2 separate regions of the Homo sapiens genome follow, and region 2 is linked to region 1. A link means that fine-mapping ties the variant in region 1 to the expression of a gene that starts in the linked region. Tissue or cell type: whole blood. Region 1 holds a variant in brackets; the other region holds the start of a gene. All regions are shown on one strand. Distances are from middle to middle.

Region 1 (8,000 bases):
TTCCTCAGGCAGGGAGGGTTATGCTGACCATGACTCCCCAAACCTGGGGACCTCCATCCAGAGCTGGGAGGACAGGAAAGGCTGACCCCAACCCCCCAGCAGTCTTATAGGGGCTCTGTTGGCTGAGCAGAAAAATAGGAGGGACTCATGGGGTCTTCAGGCGTTCTTGGGAAGGACTGACACCCTCCTCACCACTGTGCTTCCCCCATCATTTCTTCCTTGTTGACTCCTTTACCTTAGTTCAAAAGGATGTTGAACCGTGAGCTCACACACCTGTCAGAAATGAGCAGGTCCGGAAACCAGGTCTCAGAGTACATTTCCACAACATTCCTGGGTGAGTGAGGGGAAGCACGTGGGATTGGAGGGGGGACATTTGGGGTAGAGAGGGGGCTGCCCCTGACCGTGGGTCCTGTTGCTCACATCTTCCCAGGGACTCTGACTCTCAACTCCCCAAAGGTCACAGTCACCCTATCCAGGAACCCTCATGTTCCTGATGCCTCCAAACTCTGTGGGACCCCCAGCTTCTATAGAGCCCAACATCTGAAATCATCTGTGAGCTTAAAACCCTTCTAAACTTTAAAAAGCCTCCAAGCGCCGGGCGCGGTGGCTCACGCCTGTAATCCCAACACTTTGGGAGGCTGAGGCAGGCGGATCACTTGACATCAGCAGTTTGAGACCTGCCTGGCCAACATGGTGAAACCCCATCTCTACTAAAAATACAAAAAATTAGCCAGGCATGGTGGTGGGTGCCTGTAATCCCAGCAACTCAGGAGGCTCAGGCAGGAGAATCGCTTGAACCCAGGGGGTGGAGGTTGCAGTGAGCCGAGATCGCTCCATTGCACTCCAGCCTAGGCAACAAGAGTGAAACTCTTGTCTCAAAAAAAAAAAAAAAAATATTAGCCGGGCATGGTGGTGTGTGCTTGTAATCTCAGCTACTTGGGAGGCTGAGGCAAGAGAATCTCTTGAACTCAGGAGACAGAGGTTGCAGTGAGCCAAGATCACACCACTGCGTTCCAGCCTGGGCAATAGAGTGAGACTCCGTCTCAAAACAAACAAACAAACAAACACCTCTTTGTTTTAGCACTCACTTGAACCCGGGAGGCAGAGGTTGCAGTGAGCTGAGATCACGCCACTGCTGCACTCCAGCCTGGGCAACAGAGTGAGACTCTGTCTCAAAAAATAAACAAAAAAAAAAAGCCTCCAAGCTGAAAAGCCTCCTGAACTGAGTAGAACCCCAAATTCAATAGAATTTCCAAACTTGGATTGACTCCCTTCCAAACTCAGTAGACACACCCAAACTCAAGAGAGATGCCCAAACTCAGTAGAGTTCTCAAACTTAAGGGAAGTTCTGTGCTTCCGAGTCCACAAAAGGCCCCCCAACTTTAGCAACCTCCAAACTGAAAAACCCCCAAATTCAATAGGATCTCCAAACTTGGTATGACCCCCCCCCAATTCAGTAGACTCCCAAAATGTTAGAACCCTAATCTCTAGAAGATTATCAAGCTTAAGAACCTGTAAGAGGCAGGAAGAGGCAGCTCTTGCCTATAATCCCAGGACTTTGGGAGGCTGAGAAAAGAGGATCGCTTGAGCCCAGGAGTTCAAGACCAGCCTGGGCAACATAGTGAGAATCTGTCTCTACAAAAAAAATTAAAAACTAGGCCGGGCGCAGTGGCTCACGCCTGTAATCCCAGCATTTTGGAAGGCCGAGGTGGGCAGATCATGAGGTCAGGAGTTCAAGACCAGCCTGACCAACATGGTGAAACGCCATCTCTACTAAAAATACAAAAATTAGCTGCGCGTGTTGGCACACACCTGTAATCTCAGCTACTCAGGAGGCTGAGGCAGGAGAATTGCTTCAACCTGGGAGATGGAGGTTGCAGTGAGCTGAGATAGCGTCACTGCACTCCAGCCTGGGTGACAGAGTGAGACTCCATCTCAAAAAAAAAATAAATAAATAAATAAATAAATAGAATAAAAAACTAGTCGGGCATGGTGGCGTGTGCCTGTGGTCCCAGCTACCTGGGAGGCTGAGGCAGGAGGATCACTTGAGCCCAGGAGTTCGAGGCTGCAGTGAGACATGATTGCGCCACTGCACTCCAGCTTGTCTCAAAAAAACTAACACCTGTAAGATTCCTAATTCAATGGAACCCCAAATGCACCAGAATACCCCGATTTCACTGGAACCCTTAAGTTCATGGGTACCTCAAAACCCTCAAGCTAGAGATATTCCCCCAAACTCAGGATAATTTAATCCTCGCAGTTTATCACTACACTCCAAAGGCCCCCAAATTCGGGAACCGCCCAGACAAGCTCAAGAAAAGTGTTGGGGCTGGGTGCGGTGGCTCACGCCTGTAATCCCAGCACTTTGGGAGGCCGAGGCAGGCGGATCACTTGAGGTCAGGAGTTCAAGACCAGCCTGGCCAACATGATGAAACTCCATCTCTACTAAAAATGTAAAAATTAGCCGGGCGCGGTGGCGGGTGCCTGTAATCTCAGCTACTCGGGAGGCTGAGGTAGGAAAATCGCTTGAACCCGGGAGGTGGAGGCTACAGTGAGCCAGAGATCGTGCCACTGCACTCCAGCCTGGGCGACAGAGCGAGACTCTGTCTCAAGAAAAAAAGTGTTCGGTGTTTCCAGTACTCCCACCAGTGAGGGTGTGTCTCTGAGTTCTGAGGATCCACCCAATGGGAGCATAACATGTAAATGACCCGTATTAGGCCTTTTCATTGACTAGCTAGCTCCAGGTCACAATGGGTGACCTTGGCTCAGCTCTGGAAGCCCCTGAAAGCTCAGGAAAAGGGTTCCTGGGGCTGTCCCCCAGGCAGGCTGGTGCCAAGGTGGGCGGGGGGGGGGGGGGGCAGGGACATGGAGCCAGAGACCACCCTTCCCTCTCTCTTCCCAGTGATGCCACCCCCCACACCAGCACTCTTGGCCCCCATGCTGGGATCTTCCCCACCCAGAAAGGTTCCCTGGGTGTTCGGGGTAGGCAGCGGCTCTCCCTGGCATCCCCACCTCGCTTTCTGACTTCCCACACCACTCTCCATCCATATCTGATGATCAGACCGGGGCCATCCCAGAGCCCTGGGCCCCCACTCCAGCCCACCACCTCCTGGAAGATTTCCCACATCCCCTCTGGTTTCCTGACTCTGAGTAGCCAGCGGCATCACAGCTGAAAGGGTTCTGCCGTTTCGGGTGAGCCTTCCCCGTACGTGGTAGTGGGCTGAAGAATAAGGGAGCCTCCAGGGGTGGAAGGGTTGTTCACACTTGTTCCTGCTCCCCATCTTCTGCAGACAAACAGAATGAAGTGGAGATCCCATCACCCACGATGAAGGAACGAGAAAAACAGCAAGCGCCGCGACCAAGACCCTCCCAGCCGCCCCCGCCCCCTGTACCACACTTACAGCCCATGTCCCAAATCACAGGGTTGAAAAAGTTGATGCATAGTAACAGCCTGAACAACTCTAACATTCCCCGATTTGGGGTGAAGACCGATCAAGAAGAGCTCCTGGCCCAAGTGGGTGGGGGCTCAGTAGGGGCAGGGCTGGAGGGGGTGGTCTCCTGGGACCCTGAGAAGGACTGGGCATTGGGTTATGTCTTAGGCCAGGTTTCCCAGAAGCA[G/C]AGCTTGAGATGAGGGTTTGAGCCCATCTTGAGGCAAGCATGCTGGCTCTTTGTACCTCTGTATCATTCATTGCTTGGGGGCCGTCCCCAGGGCTGGACGTATCACCTCTTGCATGTAGCTCCTGTTGGGACTAGTCTTCTGGAAATGCAGGCAGCTGTGAGCCTTAGCAGGCAACACTCCCAGCTGCAGAGGGATTGGTGTACACAGCAGTGACGCTAATCCAGACTGTGCCCCCATAGTGTCCCCAACAGTCCAGACCGGTGTTTCACTCCTAGCTCTTCCAGGGGACAGCGGCAGTGGAAGTGATCCATCTTTGGTGGCTCACTCAGCTGAGGCTTATTGTAACCCTCTTTGAGCCACCTCCTCCAGTGAATCTTCCATTCAGTCACCTGGCCTTTAGTTATTTATTTTTATTTATTTATTTATTTTGAGATGGAGACTCGCTCTGTTGCCCAGGTTGGAGTGCAGTAGTGTGATCTCGGCTCAAGGCAACCTCCACCTCCTGGGTTCAAGCAATACTCCTGCCTCACCCTCCTGACTAGCCGGGACTAAAGGCCTGTGCCAGCACACCTGGCTAATTTTTGTATTTTTAGTAGAAATGGGGTTTCACCATGTTGACCAGGCTGGTCTCGAACTCCTGGCCTCAAGTGATCCACCCGCCTTAGCCTCACAAAGTGCTGGGATTGCAGGCGTGAGCCACTGCACCTGGCCAACTGGTGTTTATTAAGCAGCTACTATGTGCTGGCCCTTTTCTGAATTTTGGAGAGACATGGAAAATAAGCCCTTCTTCCTTTCTCCCCTGGGGCTCGTGAACAGCTTAGCTAAGAGGCTGAGCTGTGCTGGGGCCAGTCGTGCTGGGTTCCTATCCTAGCTTTGCCACTTATGAGCTGCATGATCTTGGAGAAGTCACATCGCCTCTCTGAGCCTTGGTGCCTTCACCTGCCAAACGAGATCAAGTGCTTAGAGCAATACTTGGCAGATCATAAGTACTCAAAAGACAGTGGCTGTGATTGCTTTCGCTATTTTGCAGCCCAGTAGGACGAGGGCAGTACATTCTGTGCTGTTGAACCTGTCACCCACTGGGTGAGCAATAATGGTGCTTCCTTCAGACCAAGGCTTCAAACTCCTAGGAAATGTTCTCCAGGGCCCTGAGCCTTACAGGCTTCTGACCTCTGGCCTCCGTCTCCACCAGGAACTGGAGAACCTGAACAAGTGGGGCCTGAACATCTTTTGCGTGTCGGATTACGCTGGAGGCCGCTCACTCACCTGCATCATGTACATGATATTCCAGGTGATGGGGACAGCTGGGAGTGGGCCCGGGTGAGGGGCTCATAGCGGGGCGCTGGAGGCCGGTGGAGGTCACCACCCTGCCCCTGCCTGCTCTCAGGAGCGGGACCTGCTGAAGAAATTCCGCATCCCTGTGGACACGATGGTGACATACATGCTGACGCTGGAGGATCACTACCACGCTGACGTGGCCTACCATAACAGCCTGCACGCAGCTGACGTGCTGCAGTCCACCCACGTACTGCTGGCCACGCCTGCACTAGATGTGAGTGACTGCCCTGTGAGTGACCGTCCCCATCTCTCTTTGTGACTGCCTCTTCAGCCTCCTGTGTGTCTCTCTGACCCTGTGTCTCTGACCTCCATCTCTCTTTGACGCCATTTCTCTCTCTTTTTTTTTTCTTTTTGAGACGGAGTCTTGCTCTGCCACCCAGGCTAGAGTGCAGTGGCACGATCTCAGCTCACTGCAACCTCTGCCTCCCGGGTTCAAGTGATTCTCCTGCCTCAGCCTCCTGAGTAGCTGGGACTACAGGTGCCCACCACCACGCCTGGCTAAGTTTTTATAATATTTTTAGTAGAGATGGCGTTTCGCCAAGTTGGACAGGCTGGTCTCAAACTCCCAACCTCGTGATCAGCCCGCCTTGGCCTCCCAAAGTGCTGGGAGTAGAGGCGTGAGCCACTGTGCCCGGTCAAAAATCTTATTTCTTAAAAAAAAAAAAGTTTTAGTCCAGGTGCGGTGGCTCACACCTGTAATCCCAGCACTTTGGAAGGCCAAGATGGGTGGATCACCTGAGGTCGGGAGTTTGAGACCAGCCTGACCAACGTGGTGAAACACTGTCTTTACTAAAAATACAAAAATTAGCCGGGCGTGGTGGGGCACGCCTGTAATCCCAGCTACTCCAGAGGCTGAGGCAGGAGAATCGCTGGAACCCAGTAGGTGGAGGTTGCAGTGAGCCAGGATTGCGCCACTGCACTCCAGCCTGGGCAACAAAGTGAGACTTCATCTCAAAAAAAATAAAATAAAAATTGCGGGGGGCTAGGCACGGTGGCTCACACTTGTAATCCCAGTACTTTGGGAGGCTGAGGCAGGTGAATCACCTGAGGTCAGAAATGGCCAACATGGCGAAACCCTGTCTCTACCAAAAATATTTTAAAAATTAGCCGGGCGTGGTGGTGGGAGCCTGTAATCCCAGCTACTAGAGAGGCTGAACCAGGAGAGTTGCTTGAACCCAGGATGGGGAAGTTGCAGTGAGCCAAGATCGTGCCACTGCATTCCAACCTGGGCAACAAGAGCAGAACTCTGTCTCAAAAAAAAAAAAAAAAAAGAAAGAAAATTAAATTTGAGACAGGGCCTTGCTATGTTGCCCAGGATGGCCTCGAACTTCTGGCCTTGAAGTCCTAGGCTCAAGTGATCCTCCCATCTCAGCCTCCTAAGTAGGTGAGACAAACAGGTGCTCACCACCATGCATGGCTTCAACTCTGTTATTCTAACATCCGTGTCTCTGCTCCCAGGCAGTGTTCACGGACCTGGAGATTCTCGCCGCCCTCTTCGCGGCTGCCATCCACGATGTGGATCACCCTGGGGTCTCCAACCAGTTCCTCATCAACACCAGTGAGTGGCCCTCGCCAGGGGCGGGGTTTGCTGAGTTGGAGGCGGTGTTGGCCAGGCTGGGGGCGGAACTAACTAGGCTGGAGGAGGGGCTGGCTGGCCTGGGGGCGGGGCTGGCTGGCCTGGAAAGGGGATGGCCGGGCAGGAGGCGGGGCTGGGGGCGGGGCTGGCTGGGCTGGAAAGGGGATGGCCGGGCAGGAGGCGGGGCTGGCTGGGCTGGAAAGGGGATGAACGGGCAGGAGGCGGGGCTGGGGGCGGGGCTGGCTGGGCTGGAAAGGGGATGGCCGGGCTGGGGTAGAGCTGACTGGGCTGGAGGCGAGGCTGGCCGGGCTGGGGAGGGGTTAGCTAGTTGGGGGCGGAGCTGGCCCTCCTGCGGTTGGAGCTGCACACGTGGGCCCTCCCCTGACCTCCGGGCTGGGCTGCAGATTCGGAGCTGGCGCTCATGTACAACGATGAGTCGGTGCTCGAGAATCACCACCTGGCCGTGGGCTTCAAGCTGCTGCAGGAGGACAACTGCGACATCTTCCAGAACCTCAGCAAGCGCCAGCGGCAGAGCCTACGCAAGATGGTCATCGACATGGTGGGCGGGGCTGGGGCGGGACGGAGCGGGAAAGGAAGCCTAGGAGTCGAGGGCTTTGGGGAGGAGTGGGTCTGAGTCCCAGAGGAACCCTCAACCTGGACAGAGCGGGCGGCTTCTACCTGGTGAAAACTTCAGAGGCCCGGGTCAGTCTGGGGGGCGGGTGTCAGCGGCCCCAGTGACGCCCCCTTGCCCGCAGGTGCTGGCCACGGACATGTCCAAGCACATGACCCTCCTGGCTGACCTGAAGACCATGGTGGAGACCAAGAAAGTGACCAGCTCAGGGGTCCTCCTGCTAGATAACTACTCCGACCGCATCCAGGTGCCCCCACGCCCCATCATCTAAGGAGGGAGGACACTCCCCCAGCCACACCTTTAGGTCTGGGTAGCTAACTGCCCCTTCCTCAGCCTCTTTCTCCCAAGTGGCCCATCTTCCTGTGTCCTTCTTTCTTTTTTTTTGTTTGTTTGTTTTTGAGACGGAGTCTTGCTCTTGTTGCCCAGGCTGGAATGCAATGGCGCCATCTTGGCTCACCACAACCTCCGCCTCCCGCCTCCCGCCTCCCGCCTCCCGGGTTCAAGCGATTCTCCTGTCTCAGCCTGCCGAGTAGCTGGGATCACAGGCATGCGCCACCATGCCCAGCTAATTTTGTACTTTTAGTAGAGAGGGTTTCTCCATGTCTGTCAGGCTGGTCTCGAACTCCCGACCTCAGGTGATCCCCCCCCGCCCCCCGCCTTGGCCTCCCAAAGTGCTGGGATTACAGGCGTGAGCCACCGCGCTCAGCCCTCTTTTTTTAAATTTATTTTTATTTACTTTGTATGTTTAAAGGAGAGTTGGGGTCTCACTATGTCACCCAGTCTGGTCTCAAACTCCTGAGCTGAAGTTATCCTCCTGTCTTGGCCTGCCAAAGTGC
Region 2 (8,000 bases), 38 kb before region 1:
GGCTGCAGAGCGCACCCGTCTTCGGGAACGGCGTCTGTGTCCCTGTCTGTCTGTTTCTATTTCCACACGTCCCTGTCTGTCTCCACGCGCCTCTGCCTGTGCGTCCCCCATCTGTGCCCAAGCCGCCGTCTCTCTGCGCCCGGCCCCCGCACATCGGAGCTATTTCGGGTTTAAGGCTTAAAAGCCCAACAGCTCGGAGGAGACGCTTCCTCCGGCCCCCGGCTCGGACCACGCGCCGCACGCGGCCAGCTCTGGGAGCTCCCAGTTTTTTCTGCGGGATCCCCGAGCCGGGGAAGCCCCCGCGGGAGGAAGGGTGGGGGCTGGGGCGACCCGGGCCCGGAGGCTCTCGGCCCCCCAGTGGCCAACCCCGGCATTGACGCCGTCAGGAGCCCAGCCGTGCGTCAGCTGTCGCCCTGGCAACGGGGGCGACGTCACCACATTGGTGGTGCGTCAGTCCGCTGACGTCACGCCCCAGGAGAGGCAATAGGCAAGTGGCGGGGGCGGGTTCTAGGCCCGACCGGCAGGGGGAGCCCTGGGGCACTGATGGCAGATGCGTTTGGCTTGGTCTTGTAGGAGGCCCTGGCCCTGCCGACATGGCCACCGCAGTCCCAACGGCGCGCTAGGTTGGCGAGATGAAGAGGAGTCGCAGTGCCCTGTCCGTGGCAGGGACCGGGGACGAGGTGCGAGAGGAGGGGCTTGGGCTAGGGGCGGGGCTTCGCCCCTTGGGGGAGACTAGCGCCCTCTAGTGACCACGGCTATTTCCTGAACGTGGCTTCACTACCTCCAAGCTGTGAGGAGTTTGGTCCCCTCGTGCCTCAGTTTACCCCCTTGATTCCATTTTTTCTCCTGCTGCCCTAAGAGGCTCTCAGCCGGCCCAGGGACAGCAGGCAAAGGCTTCTCAAATGAGGAGAGGATTTTGGCGAGGAGGTGGGAGGGGGCGCTAGGGGTGGTGAGGTCTTGAGAGTCTCAGATGTGAGGGATGGGAGGGGGGCATTGACATTAAGACCAAGAGGGGCCCTCTTAGACGTGGAGGTTGGGAAGAGACCCTAAAAAGGTGATGTGTTAGAGAGGTCTCACACTTGAGACAGAATGTCTAGATGTGACAGACCCCAAGGCTGGGGCATCGAGAGGGGACCCCACAAAAATTATGGCTGAGAAGGGGCACTCTCAGACCTAAGGGATGGCAGGGCACCCTCTGTGTGAGGGGTCAGCGAGTGGCTCACACGTGAAGGGGAGCCTATACCGCCATTAACTACTCCCTTAGACAGCTAGGTAGGGGTGTTCTTGGGGAGAGGGGCTCAGAGCTTCCCAGCCAGGCCACGCCCCTATTCCACTTTGTCCCTCCCCAGAGGTCGAGGGAGACCCCCGAATCCGACCGTGCCAACATGCTGGGGGCCGACCTGCGTCGCCCTCGCCGCCGCCTCTCGTCCGGTCCTGGCCTGGGCTGGGCCCAGCCTGAGCCCTCGGACCCTGGGGTCCCTCTGCCGCCACGGCCCACCACCCTGCCGCTGCTGATCCCACCGCGGATTTCCATCACCAGGGCCGAGAACGACAGGTAGGTAGGAGAGGGAGCAGAGTGGGAGGTGGGTTGGGGAGGCACAGTGCCAACTGGGCTAGGTCCAGCCACCAGCCCTTCCCGATCTCCATGCTCCCTGCCGTTTGCAAAACTAGCTGCAACTTGTCCTGTGGCGGGCTGTGACACCCCTACCCCAAGGCACCCTTCGCAGGCTCTAGGAACCCCTTATTTCATTTTCCAGCTGCCTGAGTCAGCAAGGGGCAGGACTGAGGAAAGGGGTGTCATGTCTCCAGCCCCCAAGATGCTCCCATATTCACAGAGCTGGGGCAGGTTGATCAGGCGGCTGTGCACCGGCTTTCATGTCCCCGCCTGGGAGGATCAGGTTTCTTCTCCGCCTTGAAGGGGATGGTGGAGTCTTGGAAGGGGTCTGGACTAGTATTTTTCTTTCTCCTGGGGAGATGTGAGAAATATCTGCGAGCTCTGGGTTCACACAGCACCTCCTGCTGATTCTCATCTGGGGACCTTCCAGGTACCCAACCAGTTTCCCAGAGTACTCAACCCCCCTCTTGGCTCAAGAATGAGCTGGAAAGTCAGACAGCTGAGCTGGTCCTGGCTTCTGGCCGGCCCCTGCCCCCATGCCCTCCTCTGGTCACCGCTTTCGGCAGTTCCAATCCACCCCCACCCCCATCTACTCAATTGGAGGGTTCCAGGGTCTCTGTTTCCGTCATGGTCCAATGGTTCATTTCCAGATAGGGAGAGCAAGTGACTGTCTCTCGCCCCTGGAGCTGCTTAATTATACCTCTCCACGCCCATCCCACTAGCCTCAGGTCCAGATCAGTTTATCCCCCAGCTCAGGCCACCGCTCCTCGTTTCCTCCTTCTTCTGCAACCCCAGCTGTGTCCTGACACCCCCACCCACCTCACATTACGCACTCCCACCCGCTTCCAGATCTCTAACCAACGTTACAGCATACCCCGCCAAGAATTTGGCCCAGCCCAGGACTCTCAAATATGATCTGGGGAGAACTCACAGCCCCTGCAAATTCCCTAGAAGCCGTTTTGAGTGTGTAATGGGGGGGGTGTTCCTGAGAGAAGTGGGGAACACAGTTTTGGCCCTTGGAATACCCGGCGGCTGCTGATGGGGGGGCCGGTTTTTGCTCGGCGTTCGCCCACGCCGGGAGCCCCCTCTGGCGGGGAGAAAAGTGGCTGTGGGGGTTGAAGACCGGCAGTCTTTTTTTTTTTTTTTTTTTTTTTTCAAATAAGGAGAAGGGCGCGGGGGGAGGGCGGTGGCAAACGGCATCGCGTGCCCTGGGGAGCCCGTGACAGGGGGCGCACGGGGGCAGGGGTCTGGTCCCCGGGTCCCGCAGCAGAGCAGTTTCGCGTTCGAGCTCTTATCGGCGTGGGGGGGGGGGGCGGTGGGACACGCGGGCGCGTGCACTCCCCCCGCCCAGCAGCCATCCTTGGGGGGGTTGAGGGGGATGGGGGCGCACTCGGATCCCGCTCGCTCTCTGCTTGCTCGCTCGGCGCGGCGCTGGGGGAGGCGGGAGCGTGAGTCACGGCGACTCCCGATTTAGGTGCCGGAAGGGGGGCTCTGCTGGCGGGGGCCGCAGGGAGGAGGCTCGCCTGTTTACTCGCCTGAAAAGGGCACGGGGGTGCGCTCCGCGGCTACCTGGGACCTTCCTCAGTTTACCTCTGGCAGAAGCGCTTTAGAAGAGGCAGCGATGTATAGAGCGGTGGGCCGGCAGCTGCGGTATCCGCCACAGGGTGTCTTCCTGGAGCCACAAGGGAACCAATGGGACACACCCCAGAAACACCCCAGAGGCCCCAGGCCGACCACACACATACACTCACGCACACGCACACACTAACATACATAGACGTCCTCCGACACTACAGTCAGACGACAGAGGCCGAATCGCGTGCACAACTCCGCAAGCACACACCGACCACAAACGCATCCAAGCGCTTGAGAACACATTCACAGTCCCCAGGCCACCTGAAAAAAGACCACGTAGGGATGCACATCCTCCAAATAGGTAGCACATGTGCGCACACATCCTTCACCCACAGACACACACAGTTATACACACAGCCAAATCCAGAGAAACGGGCAGACAACAGCAGCCAACCACGTGCGCACACACACTTCCAGCCGACACTGAAAACACAGACAACCCTCGGAAGAGGCCACGTGCGCGCACATCCCGCCCCGGGCCCGCACCATCACTATCCTCCGACGCACAGACAGGAGATCCCACACACTCTGCCGCCGCCCGCTGCAGGTACCGCGCCGGTGGCACTAGGACCACTCCTCAAAAACTGCCCCCCGCCAGGGGTAGCGGCGAGGACACGCCAACACCGGACTCCGCCCTCGCCATGATGGACCGACTGACTGACACTCTGGCAACCAGTCCGGTGTCTGCTTCCAGATCGGATTAACCGTTTAACTCCTTCGTGCCTGTGCGCGCCGCGGCCAAGCAGGGTGCTTTGAAGACAGACGAGTTCCAGCGCCCCCTCCCAGCCCGGAGCGGGGATCTGCGTGGGCGGGAAGGGCCCCCCTCCTTAGGTAGCTGCCCCCCGCTGGCCCGGACGGAGGAGGAGGGGGGCGGCGCTGACAGCCGCGGCGGGCGGGGGGCGGGGAGGGGCGGGACGGGGCGGAGGAGCCGGGGCTGGCGCCGAGCGGGCCGCGGAACGCGGAGCGCGGAGCGCGGAGAGCGCCGCCGGGCACTGAGCAGAGCTCCAGGCGCCGAAAGGAAGCTGCAGAGCCCGGCCCGGGGGCGATTGGCCCGCAGCGCCCCCGGGTCTGTCCCCGGGGCGCCATGGCCCTACCGCGGCCGGGCGCACCCGCGGGGCCCTGGGCTCGCTGGCTTGCGCGCAGCTGAGCGGGGTGTAGGTTGGAAGGGCCAGGGCCCCCTGGGGCGCAAGTGGGGGCCGGCGCCATGGAACCCCCGACCGTCCCCTCGGAAAGGAGCCTGTCTCTGTCACTGCCCGGGCCCCGGGAGGGCCAGGCCACCCTGAAGCCTCCCCCGCAGCACCTGTGGCGGCAGCCTCGGACCCCCATCCGTATCCAGCAGCGCGGCTACTCCGACAGCGCGGAGCGCGCCGAGCGGGAGCGGCAGCCGCACCGGCCCATAGAGCGCGCCGATGCCATGGACACCAGCGACCGGCCCGGCCTGCGCACGACCCGCATGTCCTGGCCCTCGTCCTTCCATGGCACTGGCACCGGCAGCGGCGGCGCGGGCGGAGGCAGCAGCAGGCGGTAAGACTCCCCGCGGCGGATGCGCGCGGAACGGATGGGCGCGCAGGGAGGAGGCAACTCGAGCTGCCGGCCGCAGGGGGCGCTAGGATGCGGGTGGGGTCGGTTTGGCTGGCGGGGGCGGAGGGAATTCGGCTGCGGGGGCGTCTGGGACCTGGCCCCTGGTTGTGCGCTCTACGGGAGGCTTCCTGCTGAAGCCCATCCTGGGGTCCATTTAGGGGGCGCCACGCTGCGCGTGGTGTTAACGAGGTCTGGGTTGGGGAAGGGGGCTGCACACTTAGGGGTCTGTATTCTTGGTGACAGTGCAGAACAGCTGCTAAGCTGGGAACCACTTGGAGGGACCTTCCTGGGGGCACTATACTGAGGGCTAGATTCGCAGTGTTTGGGGTACTCTTGGAGCACTCCATAAGGGGGTGCCTGCTAGGACCAGGATCTTTACTTCAGGGTGGGGTGCTCTCAGGGTCCTTCTAGGGGATGGAGGACTCTATTGCGGGGATGTTAGTGGACTCCTCCTGCAGCAGCTGGGGTCAGAAATCCAGAGGGTGCCTCTTGGGGGAGCACTGTTTTGGGAGCCTTGCGTTAGATTGGAGTTCCCCTCTCAGGGCAAGAGTGTTAGCGTTAAGTAGCTGTTCAGAGGCAGGAAACAGTGGAGGGGGGGCGCAGTCCCAGCACAGAGGGAAGGAGTCCCTGACTGCAGAGGTGACAGCATAGTGAGGGTGCATGTGTGTTGAGCTTGGTCTCCTCTGAGGGTATTCTCCGATTGACCTCCGTTTGCTCCAGCTGTCCGGGTATGACCAGCTGTGGCTACCTCAGTTGTGTGCTCTGTGTGAGCTTCTGGGGTCTTGTGATGGTGACACGATGACTCTGTGTCCTCCAGGGACAGTGTAATTGTGACAGTGTGACTGTGTATTTCCAGGGTAGTGTGACTGTGTGTTTCTGGGACAGGGTTTGCGACAGTGACTGTGTGTGCTCCAAGAATGCTGTGACTGTCACAGGGTGACTGTGGCCTCATGGGATGCAGTGATTGGGATAGAGTGACTGTTTCTGCTCCTAGGACAGTGATTGTGCAATGGTGTTGGTGGTCTAGGGACAATGTGATTGTGACAGTGTCATTTCTGGCATGCAGTGATTGTGGCACTGGGGTGTTTACACTTGGGGAACAATGTGATTGAGTTCGTGGAACAGTCTGTGCTCCTTGGACACTGTGATTGAAACACAGTGGCTGTGTGTTAGTCTTCACCAGGTGCTCACGTCTGAGCGTCGGTGCTCTGACATGTGGTCTGTGTTCCCTCTGCCTGGTGTATCCTAAGAACTGGTGTCCTCTAACCACCTGGTGTTCTTAGTTATTGTTCCTCCTCTGATGGTGCTCCAGGGTCTGATTGCTTGTGCTCCAGCGATGTGTGCAACTGACAGCTTTGCCCGTGTGCTCTACCTGGATGCCCCACTGCTGGGGATATCACCAAGACGGTCAGATTTGGGCTCCTTATCCCTGGAGCTCCTGAGTGAGGCCTCTCTAAGATGTAGCCCTACTCTTCCTAAGTCTCTTTGGGGGTCTTCAGCAGTCATTGCAGCCCTCCAGGCCACCCCCACCTCTGTTCTGATCACCCCCCAGCCCCAGTCCCCCTGCACCCTTCTACCCACCAGGAAGCAAGTGTCACGGGCCCAGCATACATGGGCTGACATTTCCCAAAGGGAACTGGAGAGAGGCTGAAGGAAGAGAAAGTTGGAATCAACAGAAAATGCTAAAACTGGGGCAGGGGGCCAAACTGGCACAGGTCACTGTCCTAAGACACCAAGGGGTGGGTGAAGTGAAGTAGGTTCCAGGCCCCATTTCTTTGCAAGGCTCCAGGGACTCCTCCTAGCCTGGTCTCTGGGGCACTGAGTCTTAGGGGACAGTGGCTGAGTGGTAATAATCATCATTATTTTGGTGGGTATCCATCTCGCAATGGCTCACCCTCCGGCTCCATGCCAGGGACTTTTCCATATGCATCCTCATCCCCAGTGCCCTGGGTATTCCAGCAGGGTATTCCTGCTGGCATATGGAGAAACTGGAGCCCAGAGACAAAACCCTTTCTCTTTTTTTTTTTTTTTTTTTTTTGACAGAGTCTCCTCTGTCACCCAGGCTGGAGTGCAGTGGCGTGATCTCAGCTCACTGCAACCTCTGCCTTCCGGATTCAAGTGATTCTCCTGCCTCAGCCTCCGGAGTAGCTGGGATTACAGGCGCCCACCACCACACCTGACTAATTTTTGAATTTTTAGTAGAGATGGGGTTTCACCATGTTGGCCAGGCTGGTCTCGAACTCCTGACCTCAGGTGATCTGCCCACCCCTTAGCCTCCCAAAGTGCTGGGATTACAGGCATGAGCCACTGCACCCAGCTAAACCTTTTCTCTTTCTCACCCAAACTCACACAACCAGGAGATGGGGGAGCTGGAATTGCAACGCAGGTCCGCCCAATTCCTGTGCATCTTTGTATAAGTGTCTTGCCCTCTCTGAGCCTTAATTTTCCAGTCTGTAGAGTGGGGCTTTTGTTGGCACTGCCATGTGGGGGTCACTTTGAGGGTTCTGTGAGCTTGGAGATGTGTGTAAAGGACTTAACATAATCAGTAGATCTCCATTCAGGGACCTGGACTAAGGAGGGGGGACCTGGGTGGATCCCATTTCTCCAGGGTGAGTAGAAAAAAACAGGAACCTTAACCACATCCCCACGTAGACTCGGGTTTCTGTTTCACTGTGGGCCTGTGCACCCTTCAGTGTCTGTGCTGAGGTCCAAAGCTGGGACTGATGGGTGGGCTGTAGCTGGCATCAGTGCCAGGGTCCTCCCCCATTCCCAGGGAAAAGGAGGAAGGTGTCTGATGGCAACCTCAATGCTTAGAACAGGCATTTCTTCAAAAAGGGGGTTTTTACCAGGGCACATACAGGATTCAGTGCTCCCCACACTGGAGTTCATCCAGCTACCGCAAAAGGAGTCCAGCGAGCTCCCCCGATTTGGGTCAAAGGAATCCCCAGAGAGAGGGCACTGCCCACCCCCAACCGGAGATGTCATCCAAACCTCCCCTCCAGACCTGAAGATGTATGAGACGGCTGAGTCACGGCACAGCCACGATCTGTCAAGAGGCAGATGGAGAGGGAGGAAGAGGAGGACTTTGGTGGTGGGGGTGGGGAGCTGTCTGAACTGGGGACGGGGCCAACATACGGACCCTGCGTCCCCCCTCCCTGGGCCCTAAAAC

The links. PIP is the estimated chance that this variant, and not a neighbour inherited with it, causes the effect.
Region 2: PDE4A starts here. The variant in region 1 is fine-mapped to the expression of PDE4A in whole blood (INTERVAL, PIP above 0.99). The same link has a PIP of 0.9 or more in T cells, blood mononuclear cells, lung and monocytes.

Annotation. Positions count from the first base shown.
Region 1 is chr19:10,454,589-10,462,588 of GRCh38, forward strand. PDE4A (phosphodiesterase 4A) reads left to right here. Exons shown (of 15, transcript NM_001111307.2): 7 at 241-334; 8 at 3,291-3,514; 9 at 4,812-4,910; 10 at 5,007-5,171; 11 at 6,416-6,515; 12 at 6,938-7,092; 13 at 7,289-7,411. Among named protein-coding and RNA genes, the nearest start is that of PDE4A, 38 kb to the left of the region's middle. RefSeq lists a silencer at 6,603-6,782 and enhancers at 6,744-7,468, 6,973-7,112. The variant G/C (reference allele first, on the strand shown) is at 3,619.
Region 2 is chr19:10,416,311-10,424,310 of GRCh38, forward strand. PDE4A (phosphodiesterase 4A) reads left to right here and starts at 4,228. Exons shown (of 15, transcript NM_001111307.2): 1 at 4,228-4,774. The coding sequence starts at 4,455. RefSeq lists silencers at 133-402, 4,121-4,590, 4,821-4,870 and enhancers at 503-622, 925-1,476, 1,477-2,027, 3,021-3,900, 5,081-5,270.